2 separate regions of the Homo sapiens genome follow, and region 2 is linked to region 1. Evidence: fine-mapped expression QTL. Tissue or cell type: nasal epithelium. Region 1 holds a variant in brackets; the other region holds the start of a gene. All regions are shown on one strand. Distances are from middle to middle.

Evidence for each region. PIP is the estimated chance that this variant, and not a neighbour inherited with it, causes the effect.
Region 2: it holds the start of NKAIN2, and the variant in region 1 is fine-mapped to the expression of NKAIN2 in nasal epithelium (TOPMed, PIP 0.94).

Annotation. Positions count from the first base shown.
Region 1 is chr6:124,344,584-124,352,692 of GRCh38, forward strand. All of the region lies in intron 2 of NKAIN2 (sodium/potassium transporting ATPase interacting 2), which reads left to right. Among named protein-coding and RNA genes, the nearest start is that of NKAIN2, 540 kb to the left of the region's middle. RefSeq lists an enhancer at 3,888-4,387. The variant T/C (reference allele first, on the strand shown) is at 3,899.
Region 2 is chr6:123,800,356-123,808,464 of GRCh38, forward strand. NKAIN2 (sodium/potassium transporting ATPase interacting 2) reads left to right here and starts at 3,510. Exons shown (of 7, transcript NM_001040214.3): 1 at 3,510-3,899. The coding sequence starts at 3,846. RefSeq lists an enhancer at 2,266-2,315.

The DNA.
Region 1 (8,109 bases):
CTTTGAAGCAATTGTGAATGGGAGTTCACTCATGATTTGGCTCTCTGTTTGTCTGTTATTGGTGTATAAGAATGCTTGTGATTTTTGCACATTTATTTTGTATCCTGAGACTTTGCTGAAGTTGCTTATGAGCTTAAGGAGATTTTGGGCTGAGACAATGGGGTTTTCTAGATATACAATGATGTCATCTGCAAACAGGGACAATTTGACTTCCTCTTTTCCTAACTGAATACCCTTTATTTCCTTCTACTGCCTGATTGCCCTGGCCAGAACTTCCAACACTATGTTGAATAGGAGTGGTGAGAGAGGACATCCCTGTCTTGTGCCAGTTTTCAAAGGGAACGCTTCCAGTTTTTGCCCATTCAGTATGATATTGGCTGTGGTTTTGTCATAGATAGCCCTTATTATTTTGAGATACGTCCCATCAATACCTAATTTATTGAGAGTTTTTAGCATGAAGGGTTGTTGAATTTTGTCAAAGGCCTTTTCTGCATCTATTGAGATAATCATGTGGGTTTTGTCTTTGGTTCTGTTTATATGCTAGTTTACATTTATTGATTTGCGTGTATTGAACCAGCCTTGCATCCCAGGGATGAAGTCCACTTGATCTTGGTGGACAAGCTTTTTGATGGGCTACTGGATTCAGTTTGCCAGTATTTTATTGATGATTTTTGCATCAATGTTCATCAAGGATATTGGTCTAAAATTCTCTTTTTTGGTTGTGTCTCTGCCAGTCTTTGGTATCAGGATGATGCTGGCCTCATAAAATGAGTTAGGGAGGATTCCCTCTTTTTCTGTTGTTTGGAATTGTTTCAGAAGGAATTAGTACGAGTTCCTCCTTATACCTCTGGTAGAATTTGGCTGTGAATCCATCTGGTCCTGGACTCTTTTTGGTTGGTAAGCTATTGATTATTGCCACAATTTCAGATCCTGTTATTGGTCTATTCAGAGATTCAACTTCTTCCTGGTTTAGTCTTGGGAGAGTGTATGTGTCGAGGAATTTATCCATTTCTTCTAGATTTTCTAGTTTATTTGCGTAGAGGTGTTTGTAGTATTCTCTGATGGTAGTTTGTATTTCTGTGGGATCGGTGATGATATCCCCTTTATCATTTTTTATTGCGTCTATTTGATTCTTCTCTCTTTTCTTCTTTATTAGTCTTGCTAGCGGTCTATCAATTTTGTTGATCCTTTCAAAAAACCAGCTCCTGGATTCATTAATTTTTTGAAGGGTTTTTTATGTCTCTATTTCCTTCAGTTGTGTTCTGATTTTAGTTATTTCTGCCTTCTGCTAGCTTTTGAATGTGTTTGCTCTTGCTTTTCTAGTTCTTTTAATTGTGATGTTAGTGTGTCAATTTTGGATCTTTCCTGCTTTCTCTTCTGGGCATTTAGGGCTATAAATTTCCCTCTACACACTGCTTTGAATGTGTCCTAGAGATTGTGGTATGTTGTGTCTTTGTTCTCGTTGGTTTCAAAGAGCATCTTTATTTCTGCCTTCATTTCGTTATGTACCCAGTAGTCATTCAGGAGCAGGTTGTTCAGTTTCCATGTAGTTGAGCAGTTTTGAGTGAGTTTCTTAATCCTGAGTTCTAGTTTGATTGCACTGTGGTTTGAGAGACAGTTTTTTATAATTTCTGTTCTTTTACATTTGCTGAGGAGAGCTTTACTTGCAACTATGTGGTCAATTTTGGAATAGGTGTGGTGTGGTGCTGAAAAAAATGTATATTCTGTTGATTTAGGGTGGAGAGTTCTGTAGATGTCTATTAGGTCCGCTTGGTGCAGAGCTGAGTTCAATTCCTGGGTATCCCTGTCAACTTTCCGTCTCATTGATCTGTCTAATGTTGACAGTGGGGTGTTAAAGTCTCCCATTGTTATTGTGTGGGAGTCTAAGTCTCTTTGTAGGTCACTCAGGACTTGCTTTATGAATCTGGGTGCTCCTGTATTGGGTGCATATATATTTAGGACAATTAGCTCTTCTTGTTGAATTGATCCCTTTACCATTATGTAATGGCCTTCTTTGTCTCTTTTGATCTTTGTTGGTTTAAAGTCTGTTTTATCAGAGACTAGGATTGCAACCCCTGCCTTTTTTTGTTTTCCATTTGCTTGGTAGATCTTCCTCCATCCTTTTATTTTGAGCCTATGTGTGTCTCTGCATGTGAGATGGGTTTCCTGAATACAGCACAATGATGGGTCTTGACTCTTTATCCTATTTGCCAGTCTGTGCCTTTTAATTGGAGCATTTAGTCCATTTACATTTAAAGTTAATATTGTTATGTGTGAATTTGATCCTGTCATTATGATGTTAGCTGGTGATTTTGCACATTAGTTGATGCAGTTTCTTCCTAGTCTCAATGGTCTTTACATTTTGGCATGATTTTGCAGCAGCTGGTACCGGTTGTGCCTTTCCATGTTTAGTGCTTCCTTCAGGAGCTCTTTTAGGGCAGGCCTGGTGGTGACAAAATCTCTCAGCATTTGCTTGTCTGTAAAGTATTTTATTTCTCCTTCACTTATGAAGCTTAGTTTGGCTGGATATGAAATTCTGGCTTGAAAATTCTTTTCTTTAAGAATGTTGAATATTGGCCCCCACTCTCTTCTGGCTTGTAGAGTTTCTGCTGAGAGATCAGCTGTTAGTCTGATGGGCTTCCCTTTGTGGGTAACCCGACCTTTCTCTCTGGCTGCCTTTAACATTTTTTCCTTCATTTCAACTTTGGTGAATCTGACAATTATGTGTCTTGGAGTTGCTCTTCTCGAGGAGTATCTTTGTGGCGTTCTCTGTATTTCCTGAATCTGAATGTTGGCCTGCCTTGCTAGATTGGGGAAGTTCTCCTGGATAATATCCTGCAGAGTGTTTTCCAACTTGGTTCCATTCTCCCCGTCAGTTTCAGGTACACCAATCAGACACAGATTTGGTCTTTTCACATAGTCCCATATTTCTTGGAGGCTTTGTTCGTTTCCTTTTATTCTTTTTTCTCTAAACTTCCCTTCTCACTTCATTTCATTCATTTCATCTTCCGTCACTGATACCCTTTCTTCCAGTTGATCGCATCAGCTCCTGAGGCTTCTGCATTCTTCACGTAGTTCTCGAGCCTTGGCTTTCAGCTCCATCAGCTCCTTTAAGCACTTCTCTGTATTGGTTATTCTAGTTATACATTCATCTAAATTTTTTTCCAAGTTTTCAGCTTCTTTGCCTTTGGTTTGAATTTCCTCCTGTAGCTCGGAGCAGTTTGATCATCTGAAGCCTTCTTCTCTGCACTCGTCAAAGTCATTCTCCGTCCAGCTTTGTTCCGTTGCTGGTGAGGAACTGCGTTCCTTTGGAGGAGGAGAGGCGCTCTGCTTTTTAGAGTTTCCAGTTTTTCTGCTCTGTTTTTTCACCATCTTTGTGGTTTTATCTACTTTTGGTCTTTGATGATGGTGATGTACAGATGGGTTTTTGGTGTGGATGTCCTTTCTGTTTGTTAGTTTTCCTTCTAACAGACAGGACCCTCAGCTGCAGGTCTGTTGGAGTTTGCTAGAGGTCCACTCCAGACCCTGTTTGCATAGTTAGCAGCAGCATTGTCTGCAGAACCGTGGATTTTCGTGATCCGCGAATGCTGCTGTCTGCTTGTTCCTCTGGAAGTTTTGTCTCAGAGTTGTACCCGGCTGTGTGAGGTGTCAGTCTGCCCCCACTGGGGGGTGCCTCTCAGGCTGCTCGGGGGTCAGGGGTCAGGGGCCCACTTGAGGAGGCAGTCTGCCCGTTCTCAGATCTCCAGCTGCGTGCTGGGAGAACCACTGCTCTCCTCAAAGCTGTCAGACAGGGACATTTAAGTCTGCAGAGGTTACTGCTGTCTTTTTGTTTGTCTGTGTCCTGCCCCCAGAGGTGGAGCCTACAGAGGCAGGCAGGCCTCCTTGAGCTGTGGTGGGC[T/C]GCACCCAGTTTGAGCTTCCTGGCTGCTTTGTTTACCTAATCAAGCCTGGGCAATGGCGGGTGCCCCTCCCCCAGCCTCGCTGCTGCCTTGCAGTTTGATCTCAGACTGCTGTGCTAGCAATCAGCGAGACTGAGCCAAGATGGCCAAATAGGAACAGCTCCGGTCTACAGCTCCCAGCATGAGCGACGCAGAAGATGGGTGATTTCTGCATTTCCATCTGAGGTACTGGGTTCATCTCACTAGGGAGTGCCAGACAGTGGGCACAGGTCAGTGGGTGCAGTGCACCTTGCATGAGCCGAAGCAGGGCGAGGCATTGCCTCACTGGGGAAGCTCAAGGGGTCAGGGAGTTCCCTTTCCTAGTCAAAGAAAGGGGTGACAGACAACACCTGGAAAATCGGGTCACTCCCACCCCAATACTGTGCTTTTCCGACGGGCTTAAAAAACGGTGCACCAGGAGATTATATCCCACACCTGGCTCGGAGGGTCCTATGCCCAGGGAGTCTCGCTGATTGCTAGCAGTTGTTTTTAAGACAAGATTTGTTAGTACAATGTTCCTTAGGAGTGATTCTAACGTAGTTTATTAGAACTGATTATATTATTGTTGTAGGAAAAAACCGGGTTCTTATCAGAGGACCAGGATAATTTAGACACGTGGACATATTGTAGGGTGAGTAGGGCAGGGTTTATTGGGTGCAAAGGAAAAAAGGGAAACAGGAACCCTCAGCAAAGCAAGAGAGTCCTGTTAGCTGGTTTACCCCCTCACAGATTGAATCCCAGGTTACCACACAGGAAGAGGAGAGCCAGCCTGCTCCCCCCTACAAAGGCGGGAACTTCCCGAGGCTCCACCCCATTCTCCCAGTGCACAGGCCGGTTGGGTATTCTCCAGGGACCCCTTTTTACTTGGCTGCCTCATTATTACATTAAAATTAGCAGCATGATATCTGTGATATTGGTGAGCTGATACTAGTTTTGCATCCTAGTAGAAACAATCACACCTAAAAACATTCCTATAGATTGCATTAATTGTCAATCATTAATACATATAGATAATATTAGGAGAGTTACTCAGTTATATTCTGTAATATTTCCCTGTAGCTTCTGTTGCAGTCACTTGCATCCAGCTGGTATTTAATAAAAGTGAACTCATTCATGACTCACCTCCTTTTCTAATTAAGTTCTTAGTCTTATACTACCTTGGTCTACCTTTCTAATTATTGTATAACCCATGACATATAATAGGGCCATGTCTCTGAGCCTGACCAATATTTTGGCCTTTCATGATTAACAGCCTTAACTAATTTTTATCTTATATAGCTAATTTGATTTCATCATTGGAGCCACAAATACCACAGGGAAGCCATGATGATTCAATTACTTTTTTCAGCTGATAGTTTTAACCATTTCCCTGGATTCTCAAGTTAAGTTAATCTCTCAGATGGTTCACCTGGTGCTTCAGAAATCAATTCTTAAAAGTGAATTTTATCATACAATAGAATTTTTCTCTCATCACAGACAATATCTCAAAGTTTCTGTCTGAAACATAAAATATAAGATTTTCTTCACAAGAAAAAATGAGGCTAAAACAAAATTAGTTTTATAGCAGAAAACTACAAGTTAGGTGGTATCTAGCAATTGTGATACTTTATTATATTAGGTCATCTCTCCAGGGCAGAACATCTTTTCCAATTATACTCAAACTGCATCATTGTCAATTATATCACATCAACTAGTTGTAGCAACAGGGAAGAAGTTTGTACTGATCTTTATACTCTTAAATAACTATGCTGAGTAATTTTAAGAGCAGGGTTTATTGACAAAAATCATAGGCCGAATTACAAGGCAGTACAAAATCTCCATCAATGTTTAGGCAACTAGGCAAAATCCAATTACAGGATATTTGATATAGATAAGTGCCAGCTACTAAAATGAGAAAAAAAATGTAGAAAAGAATAAAAAAAGAAAATAGGATTAAGATAGGAGGTATAAGAAAGATAAATGAGAGAAAATTAATGAGGAAAGTTAAATGAGATAAATTAGATAAAGTCCTGCCTTTGGATAGTGATGCACAAGTAGCAATTACCCTCTGTAGCACTAGGGTGGATTTCTATGTTCATTAAAGGGGTTACACCAGTGTTTTTGGCAAATCTGTAATGAAGGATAGTGCATTGTGAGACTAACTGGATTGTAATGAAATATACAATTAAGTGAAAATAGTGAAAGTAAATGCAAGGATATGAAAGGAACATTTGCTATATTCTTTATGTACATATCCTTCTGAATTACTCTGGAAAAAAGAGGATAAAAAATTATATTCTACTCCAAAGTAATTGCCAATAAATACTGTCAAGAGGCAACTCATAGCTGCGCATGGTGGCACATGCCTGTAGTCCTAGCTATTCAAGAGACTGAGGCAGGAGGATCACTAGAGTCCAGGAATTCAAGGCTGCAGTGAGCTATGATAGCACCACTGCACTCCAGCCTTGGCAACAGAGTGAGACGCCTTCTCTAAAAAGTAAATAAATAAATAAAAATATTTTTAAAAAAGTAACTCATAAAACAAGACATAGAAAATGCTTTATAATTATGTGTTGCACTAAGTTAGAAATAATAAATTGTATTTTAGATCAAATGAAGGTTGGTTTCATGAAATAGCATTCGTCTATACATAATGGCGTTAATATATCAAAAACCCTTAATCTAGTGAATAATATGTTGCATTAAGTAAACAAGTCTAGTTTGCAAGTTCAATATGATGGAACAATGTTTTATATCAGTTAATATGAGAAGTTTGAGAGGCTGAGGCAGGCAGATAGCTTGAGCCCAGGAGTTTGAGACCAACATGGTGAAACTCTCTCTACAAAAAATACAACAAATTAGCCAGGCATGGTGATGCATGCCTGTAGTTCCAGCTACCCAAGAGGCTGAAGTGGAAGGATTACCTGAACCAGTGCAGTTGAGGCTGCAGTGATCCAAGGCCACTGCCTTCCAGCCGGGGTGGCAGAGTGAGATCCTGTCTCAAAAAAACCAAAAAAAAAAAAAAAAGAAAAGAAGAAGAAATCATGTGGGAAGTATATTTTGTAATATCCTAATAAATAAATCTTTGAGGATTACTGCTATTTTATTTATTTATTTATCTATTTATTCATTCGTTTATTTTGAGATGAAGTCTTGCGCTGTCACCCAGGCTGGAGTGAAGTGGTGCGATCTTGGCTCACTGCAACCTCTGCCTCCTGGGTTCAAGTGATTCTCTTGCCTCAAGCCTCCCTAGTAGCTGGGATTACAGGCGTCTGCCACCATGCCTGGCTAATTTTGTATTTTTAGTAGAGATGGGGTTTTGCCACGTTGGCCCACTGGTCTCAAACTGCTGACCTCAGGTGATCCACCCACCTCGGCCTCCCAAAGTGCTGATATTACAGGCCTGAGCCACCGCGCCCGACCCTACTGCTTATTATTTTAACAAGAAGAGATGATGATGTGACATAATCATCATAATAAAATGACAACATATAGTGAAAATTCAAGTATTGTGTACTTTCAAACAGTTGATCATTCCATTCCCATACAAGCCATGGAGTTTGCTACTACTAAGAAGCCTATTTTATATTTAAGTAAACTTAATTGTAATGGGTCATATCACTTGAAGATAGTCAAAGAGCATCCAAGTGACAGAGCCAGATGTTAGGTTCTGTGTTCTCATTCTCTATATGCTATTTATTTGCATGTAATCCATTACCTTTCATATGCTTTCATAAAATTATTAATTTTGGTGGCTAAAACATAAATGTTTCAACTTGATTTTTAACCAAACTAGGTATAATTTACATTTATACATACACATAAATGTAAGTAACTAAGTATAAATGAAGATTCCAAATTTTTATTATATTTTCAACATATAATACTGAAGTAGTGACTATTCCATATATACCATGTGAATACAGATAAACATGGTTAGCATTTAATAAGCATAAAATATAATTTTAGTTATGAAATTAAAAAGCTTCAGCATTGACATTTTTAAATACTATATTGGAAAGAATGCTTGCCGACGACAAATTTTCAGGAGAGTTTGATATGTGTAATACAGTGTCTTTCATTAGCTCATCAGCCATTGCTGAAGTCCTAGTATCCTGCTACTTTGACTTTTAGTAAATAGTGTTTATTTAGCTCTCCATTATAAATAATATGGGGAAAATATGTCATTGTGCAC
Region 2 (8,109 bases), 540 kb before region 1:
AGCTTGAGCTTTTGGTGTAGCTGAAGTGATTGAGTGTTAGCAGTCTGTAACCCGGTTCACTCAGTGGCTGTGTGCCTACTGCATTGCATGAGTTGTTCTGAGAGATAAATGAGATAATAGATCTGAAACAACCTTGAAAACTACTTTAAAACAGTACGGGAAGGTGAGGCAGATGGAGGTGTGGAATGTGCAGCACATTTTCCCCATAGAAACAAGGCAATTCACAATACTTATGTCACCATATTAGTCAACAAAAGGTCTAACACCTTATATAGCAAAACAGTTTATGACCTTATTTCTAAGTGAAAATGCAATCAACATTCAAATTGGAGACATCTCTCTCCTTCACAAACGTCTGTGGAACTGTTGGGATTCTCTTTTTAGTCTCTTCTACTAAGACACTCAGTTCCAGGAATAATAGAAAACAGAATAGGAAGTGCATAGCCACATTAAGTTATAGAATTGCATCTATAACTAGGGTGCCCTTTCATAAGTCAGGCATTGCCTATACTGTATGTAAAGGATGTGATGCCAATTTAGAGATAAAATATGTGTGATTATTCTTCTAAATATTTTTGTCATCACTTTCGTATGGAATTCTAAAAGAATGACAGGGAAGTATATTGAAATAAAGGAGTGTGGTACAGTAGTTCGAAAAGCGAATTTTGGTGTCTTATAATCATGCCCTTCAAATTCTAATTCTGCCGCCAAGAACACGTGCACCCGTGATAAAAATATTTGATTTCTCTCTGAGTTTGTATATCTTTAGAATGTGCATTGTATCAACTCATGTGTTTCCTGTGAGGAATGAATGAGACGATGTAGGTTTAGTACATAAGGCAGTAGTTGCACATAGTGAAGTCTCAACATTGTTTGTAGTTCACACTTCTGAGAACACTGTGCCAATGACGTCAGATGAGGTATAAAAGCCCCTGGAGACTGCCTTAGGTTGGGATTCTCAAGAGGCAGGCTCTGACACAAGGATTTGAGTGGTTTATTTCAGAGGTGATCCCAGGAAGCAGTGGTATGAAAGCAGGGAGATGAGGCATGGAAGGGAAGGAAGCCAATTCAGAGCGCATGAATGAGCCAGTTACTACTGTGGACACCTAGGGCTCAATCTCGGTGGGGACCTTAATGGTGTAGACTAGAACATGTCTGACGGTTTCCCATATGAGGATTGAAGAAGCTGGGGTATTTATCCTCCAATTCCCATCCATTATTGCGTGAGGGTAGCTCTTAGGGCTGGAACCTTATTGTTCAGCCAAGCACCTCCAATGGCTAGAAAACAGACTGTCCCAAGTGATTACAAAAACGCAAGCATGGACTGAAAGGGCACAGTCCAAGAACTATGGTGGGGCACTGCTGGAGTCAGCTACAGATAGCATTCTGCTTTCCTATACAACCTAAAGATTACTCAGGCTATTGCTGGTTGCAGGGAAACCTCTGCAGGATTACGGAGGGATCCATATAAATGTGTTGTTCCTATGATTAATTTGAGGAGGTAATAGAATGCTTTTGACAGTATGGCAGCAGCTTCTTCAACAGTCAATTAACTTACAGCTTTCTGTTTGGCAATGCAAAATACCCATAGCCCTAGCAGGTACAGGACAGCTAACGTGTATAAAGACAGAAGAGCAACTAAGAGAAACATTTTCCACTAGATAACTGGCTTCAGTTTTACCAAAGGTTGTGGAACTATTACCTTCCAGGCTTTGCAGTGCCTAAGAGCACATATTGGGCTCTTGGGAATTTTATTAAACATTGAAAGACACTTTTCAGAAGAAAAGCCCCTTTACAAATGGGTCGATTAAAACCAGACATTCTCATTATAGCAATAAAATATCTGTGCTCCATAAATTTAACAAAGTTAATCCCTTTTTGGCTCCCTAGGACTGACGAAACGTTTCTGAAAATTCAGTGCCAGGCTCTGGAGAATAGTCTCTCTGCCCTATTCAATTTATTTGTATTTAGTCATTCTGATACGTCATAATGTTTATTCAAAGGAAGCAATCATTCGGGATCCTTATTTGTGGTTCCCAGCATAACTTTATCCTGTATAAATGCCATTTTTCTCAGTAGGCGCCAAGTTCCAGTTGCTACAGAGAGCTCTCTGCTTGATGTGGCTTCGTCATCTTAATCTCTTAAGAAGGGTGCTAGGGAGCTGTTTGCTATTTAGCTCCCTAAACCATCCTCTTATCAATCGCGACACTTCACCCCAATGAGTCAGTTCCTCAGTGGATCTCAACAAATAATCTTCACTTCCTGGAAAAGTTAGGATTGCTTTCCTTAGCTGCCAGGGCTAAAAAGGAAACTTGGTCCTAAATATCCACGCCCCAGGGGCAGCCACTTGGGCCAGCATGTTGCGCCCTTCAGCTTTCCGCCCGCAGGTGGCAGCAGCGGGCTCCGAAGCCTGTCTCTGCAGGTAGCAGCCGCTTCACAGCTTTCAGGCCGGTGCTCAGCGGAGGCTGGTGCATCTCCACTAGGAATCCACACCCAGCTGGGACTGCTGTGAAGCTGAAGTAACTGAGTATTAAACTAGTCTCCGACTCTTTAGTATTTTAAGTGAAAACAAACAACAGTTTGAAGCAGCAACAGCAACTCATTGCATCCCTATTCCCTCCGGTTGCTAATTTTTCCCAACTCCAGCAGCAACTCGGTCCCCTTCCCCAAGCAGGGTCGGCTCCGTAGCTCTCCGCGCTCCGACCCTTCAGATCCTCGGGAGCCCAGGGGAGCCAGGTGCTGGGCGGTGCGTCCGGTGCCGCCGCGCCCCTTCTCGCCACCTCTGGCCTCTCCGCCACTCGGGCTTTCCGGCCGCTCTGGATGCCTCGGTTGCACCCCTGTTCCATGACCCCAGCTTCCTTCCCTAACCCTCCTCTTGGTCCCTTCTCCCCCGAGCGCGCGCGCACACACACACTCGGTTCGCTCCCGCGGAGTGGCTCTGGGAGCACGACCGACTTCAGCTCAGCAAACCGCGGTCATGCCGCCCAGACTCCTCGCCCCGAGGCCCCGGTCCCCGCCGCCGCCGCTTTCGCGCCGCTCCTTTCCGCCTAGACACCGCCGCCTGCGGCCGCCTGGGCGGCAGCCCCTGCGGTCCTCAAAGTTGGCCCCCTGGGAGGGGGCGGCAGGGAGCAGGATGAAGGATTTGTTGTAGGAGGAGGATTCACACATCTGGGCGAAGGGAGGGGCAGCGCCGCTGCTGGGACGCGGCGCGGACCCGCATCATTGCGCGCAGCAGCCGCTGCAGCAGCCGCCGGGGACCGCGGAGCCGGGACGCCCCCGCTCGGCCCGCGCCCCGCTCCCCGCCCCACCCCCGCCCGCCGGGCCCAGCAACGCAGGGTGCCTAGGAGCCGCGGGCTGCGCAGGGAGGCGGGCAGCGGCCCTCGCGCGCTTCTGCCGCCCCCGGAGCCGGCGCGCGGCGAGCGCAGGGCGAGCGCGCGTCGGGCGGCGGCCGCGCTGGGGGGCGTGAGGCGAGCGGCGCGGAGAGCGGCAGGGGCGAAACTTCGCGGGCCAGATGCCCGAGGGCGCGGCGGCGCTGCCAGGCTGCCGCTGCTGCCCCTGCGGGCCCCGAGCGCGCCTCCGCAGGCGGCACTGCCCGCGGCGCGGCGTGTGCACCGAGCGAGTGAAGGTATGTGTGGCGGGCGCGGCTGGAGCTGCCGCCGCCGCCGCCGCCGCGCCAGCAGGTCCTAATGCCTGTCACTTCCCAGGACGCTGGCAGCAGCAGCAGCCCGGAGCCCCCGAGCCCTCGGCAGGTTTGCGTGTCCTTCCCCGCGATCTGATTGGATAAAGTGGGGGCTCGACGGTGGCCGACGTGGGACAGTCTGGCTGTGGCAGGGGTCTCGGAAACCATGGGTTATTGCAGTGGCAGGTGCACGCTTATCTTTATCTGTGGCATGCAACTGGTAAGTGACACTTGGGTCCCCTTATTCTGTAATGTGTCTTTGAGATAGTGGGCAGGGGAGTGCAGCAAAGGGTCTGCCATTGACTAGAATGGACGAAAAAGATAAAAGAGAAGGTGACAGATATATTGCCTATATTGAAGATGATTTCAGGGAGACGCACTCTGGGGTACAGGAGAGGTGAGCCTTTCCGTTCCCACCTATTTCTGTCCCTTTTAAGACAGTTTGGCAGGTGCGGGTTAAACTTGTCTTTAATTTCTTTAGGAAAAGCAAGATGTAGCTCTTGTTCTTTATGCTTTGCATTCCTATTCATGTAACAACGTGATTGTCACCTACAATTTACCGTACAGGTTGTTAAACAGAGGAATACGGAATTTTGGACTTTTCTTCTCTATACTAATTTTGCAGTATCTTTGTTTCTTCATAGACATGTTTTTTTTCTTTTTTTAAGGAAAATGTTGTCTTTAAGTATAATGCTCTAAAAAAACCACTGTTTAGGGCACATGGTATCCTTACAACAGTCTAATTTAGACTGTTTGAGTTTTAGCCACATTGAGTTTTTAAAGTATGCAGATTGAACAAAAATACTTAGGTGAACTCAGCAACACCATTGTCATAGACGGAACCAGTAACCTTTAAATCACAATTAACACAGACAATTCCAAGAAAAACTATTCTGTCTTACATTATGCATATTATTGCTCCTGAAATAGATACTGTTGTCTGATCCTATAGGATGGAGAATTCTATGTACTTTTTGAGGAATGTTGTACAGTTGCAAAGGGGCAAGGAACCAATAATGGAAAACGTCATGTCTCTGAATTTCAATTCCCTAAGGGCAATGGAAGGAGGGTCTGAGTAGAGAGTTGAGAGGTGAAAAATACACCACTCTAAGTGGTTAATTTGAGGTAGGAGCTACTTGCTCACACTTGTCATTAAATATATTTCCTTAGAAAGTATAAATTAACTGGAATAGTCATGTCCGTTTTCAACAACTGTTTCATAAAGGTTGAAGTGACTACAAGGCAGAAGATGTTTAAGTGTCCAATCAGTAAAGTGTTCAAAAGAGCAAGGATTTGCCATTGAAACTGGCAGAGGAATTCCTTAAGTGTTCTTGTTTATCAGTTGTCGTGAAGCCCATGAGTGTTAGTTATTGCTGCTTTGTTTAATATTTAGCTGAAACAGTGCTTTTTGTTGTGTGTTGTCTTAGGATGTTTTTCTTTCCCCTGAAAGTTATCTGATGGTGTCTATTTTGATCTGTGATTTATGCGCTTATGCACTTGGTTGTAAGACAAAGATGGAACTATAAATGTAATTTTCAGAATGTGGTAGTTTCTCAATGATGTGTAAACCAGTTTATTTTTCTGTACCACAGATTCATATAAGTTTTGCAATGAAGGATTTTTACTCTTAATAATAAAGCTAACCAAAACAATGAGGGAGTTTACTTTGTTAAACAACCCATTAGGCTAAGTCTGCCAAACTGTATAAAGGTTTTCAAAACATTCTTATTTTTATATATTATTCAGAAAAAGAATACATTTGCTGATTCACTGTGTGAAAGCATAAAAATGTGAGAATGAGTGGGTGTGTAGATCATTCTTATGCTCTTTTCGATTTAAAATTTGAAAAATGTGATTTAACTTCTAATCATGTAATATAATAGGGCTTTCTTATGGCAAATGTATGCACTAGGTCTGTATGACATTTTGTGTGATGAATACAAACTCCTCAAGAACTTAATTTTAGAAAAACATAAATATACCAGTAGGGAAGCTATCTATTCAAAGTAGAATGATAAAGCTAAAGGTTCCTTTGTGTTTTTATGTGCTCACATATGTGTGTATGTACATATGCTCTTGAGTACATGCATGCATCCATACATACAATGGTGTCTTGGAGAGTTGCACCATCACTTATGAAACAGAAATTCTGAATTATAATTAAGTTCTCTAACAGAATAGACGTAGCTGTAATACAGAAGAGCACAATCTAAGTAAGTGTACATTGGAATCCTAAGGAGTTTTTATATTATATGAGAATCATGTGATTTTTCCCATTCAGACTTTATGTGCCACCAGGCTAATATAATTAGCAGCCATGTTAACGCAGATGCAGAACAAAAAACAAAGGACAAAGAAAATGCAATTGTTTTGATAGGGTGAAATGATCACACCTCAAAGGACCTCAGAGATTCTTGGTAATTGTTGCTTTTTGGAAATACGGTATTTGATTTTAAATAAAATAATTCTTTTGCAAATTAATAGTTGCAAAGCCCTGCACTAAAAAATAGGTGGGTGTGTATGTTTTCCTTTTGCTCTCAATAGATTTTTAAAAACTTTTTATGTCTTTGCGCTATTATGAGTAGATTGTTTTACAAATAAACCAGGTTTCTAGACTAAGTTATGACTCATGTACCATTGACTGAAATAAAAGTTAACCCAGTTTTGTTTACTTCTCAAGTGTTTAGTATGTGTTCTTGTAACATTTGGGCATCTTTTTTTTGGTAACTGTACAGGAAAAAAGGCCAAAGAGACTCTAAGTTAGAAACTTTATTCAGTTGCTTTATTATGTGACTTGATTAAGGTTCTGGAAACATTAATCTCCAGTCCTCGGAGCAAAGTATTTGTATTTTAAATAAATTTAAGGGAATATTTACATCTGTACCAATTTGCAGCTAATCTTAGGAGAGGATGAGGTGGCTTTTGGTATTGTGGATATGGTGATCTCATTTATTAAGTTATTATCAGACCAGACACGGTGTTTTGACCATTTAACAATTGAGGGACAGAGGCAGATTCTTCAGAGACATTTACCTGTCAGAATTCTATATCTGTGCTTTAAATTAGTTAAATATACATTTAATTTAATGTTTGGCAGACTACAAGTATTGATAAACATATACTCTTCTCAAAAATCAGGAGATCCGTTTATAAAACAAGAAACTAGAATTCCATACCATAGAGATTCATACAAAACTTCCATTTTATGAAAAACTGTTTCCATATATATCATAAATTAAAATCTTTGAGTTGTATGGTTATGCCAACTTCAGATTTTAGGGTGATTCCTACGTAAAGGAGTATGATCTCTGGAAACAGATTTATTCCATGTGCAGAATCCAGAGCTTAAGCTCATAATCTCAAGAAGGTAATTTTCTTTTTATCATTGCTGTCCTTAATACTCAGAAACTGAAGATTTCAGATAGTAACAAAAATCATCACTGCATTTGCAATGGTGGATGTAGTGGTATAGGACAAGAAGTTTTTAACTTCTTATTTACTATTTGTAACTTTCAACTTGTGAAAGTTTTGGCATGTTTTCCCCAATGTTTGATTGAATCAGAGTTCTTTTATAAATGTGGAAAAAATTACTCTGATATCTCTCAGTGTGAAAAAATACGTTAAAATATGAAAGAATATAACTTAATTTAGACTGAAAGGACAGATTTGTTTTCAAGTAAGGAAACTCAAAATCCCCTATTTTGTACTTTAGACTTCTGGGTGGCACAAAACATGTCATAAACTATTGAAAGAAAGTTTAGATTTACACTCCACAGAATAACACTTGAAAAATGCCACTATTGCCATGGGCTGTATGAAATATTGTTAACTTGGAGCAGGTGCAACTAACAATTAGGTTAGTACACATTGTGTGTGCAGCTGTGTGAAGGAGTACATTTGAAACTTAATTAAGAATGATCAGTTACTTTCTATCACAGGATTGCTAACCATTTTCAAAGGTACATATTTTTTTTCCTTAAGATGTTGTGAGTGTAGACTAAATTAAAAACAATTTTATTATAATTATGGAATATTTCAGTGATCATGATTTTATGCAGTGTTCATAATCATGTGCTATTTTATTACTTTTTAGAAAATAAAGCGTTGCTGTGAAGTAGCTTGAAAAGTGCAGGTAGAATCTTATGATATTCCTGGTATACTTCTGACAAGTTTGACGGTTTTTCAGAAGTTTATAACTTTATCTGCCACAAAACTTCCTGGCTCAGAGAATTTTAACTTTTTAGGATTCAGATGCCATTGATGATAAAATCTTGAAGTTGTTAACCAAACTTACTCATGAAGAAGACTGAAAATCCCCATACAATACTTTAGAAACTTATCATGTAAAAATATGTTGAGTTTGCTAAGTTGTAAAATGATAACTTTCTTCTTTTTAAATGTTTTCTATTTATGCATCCTGAATATTGTTG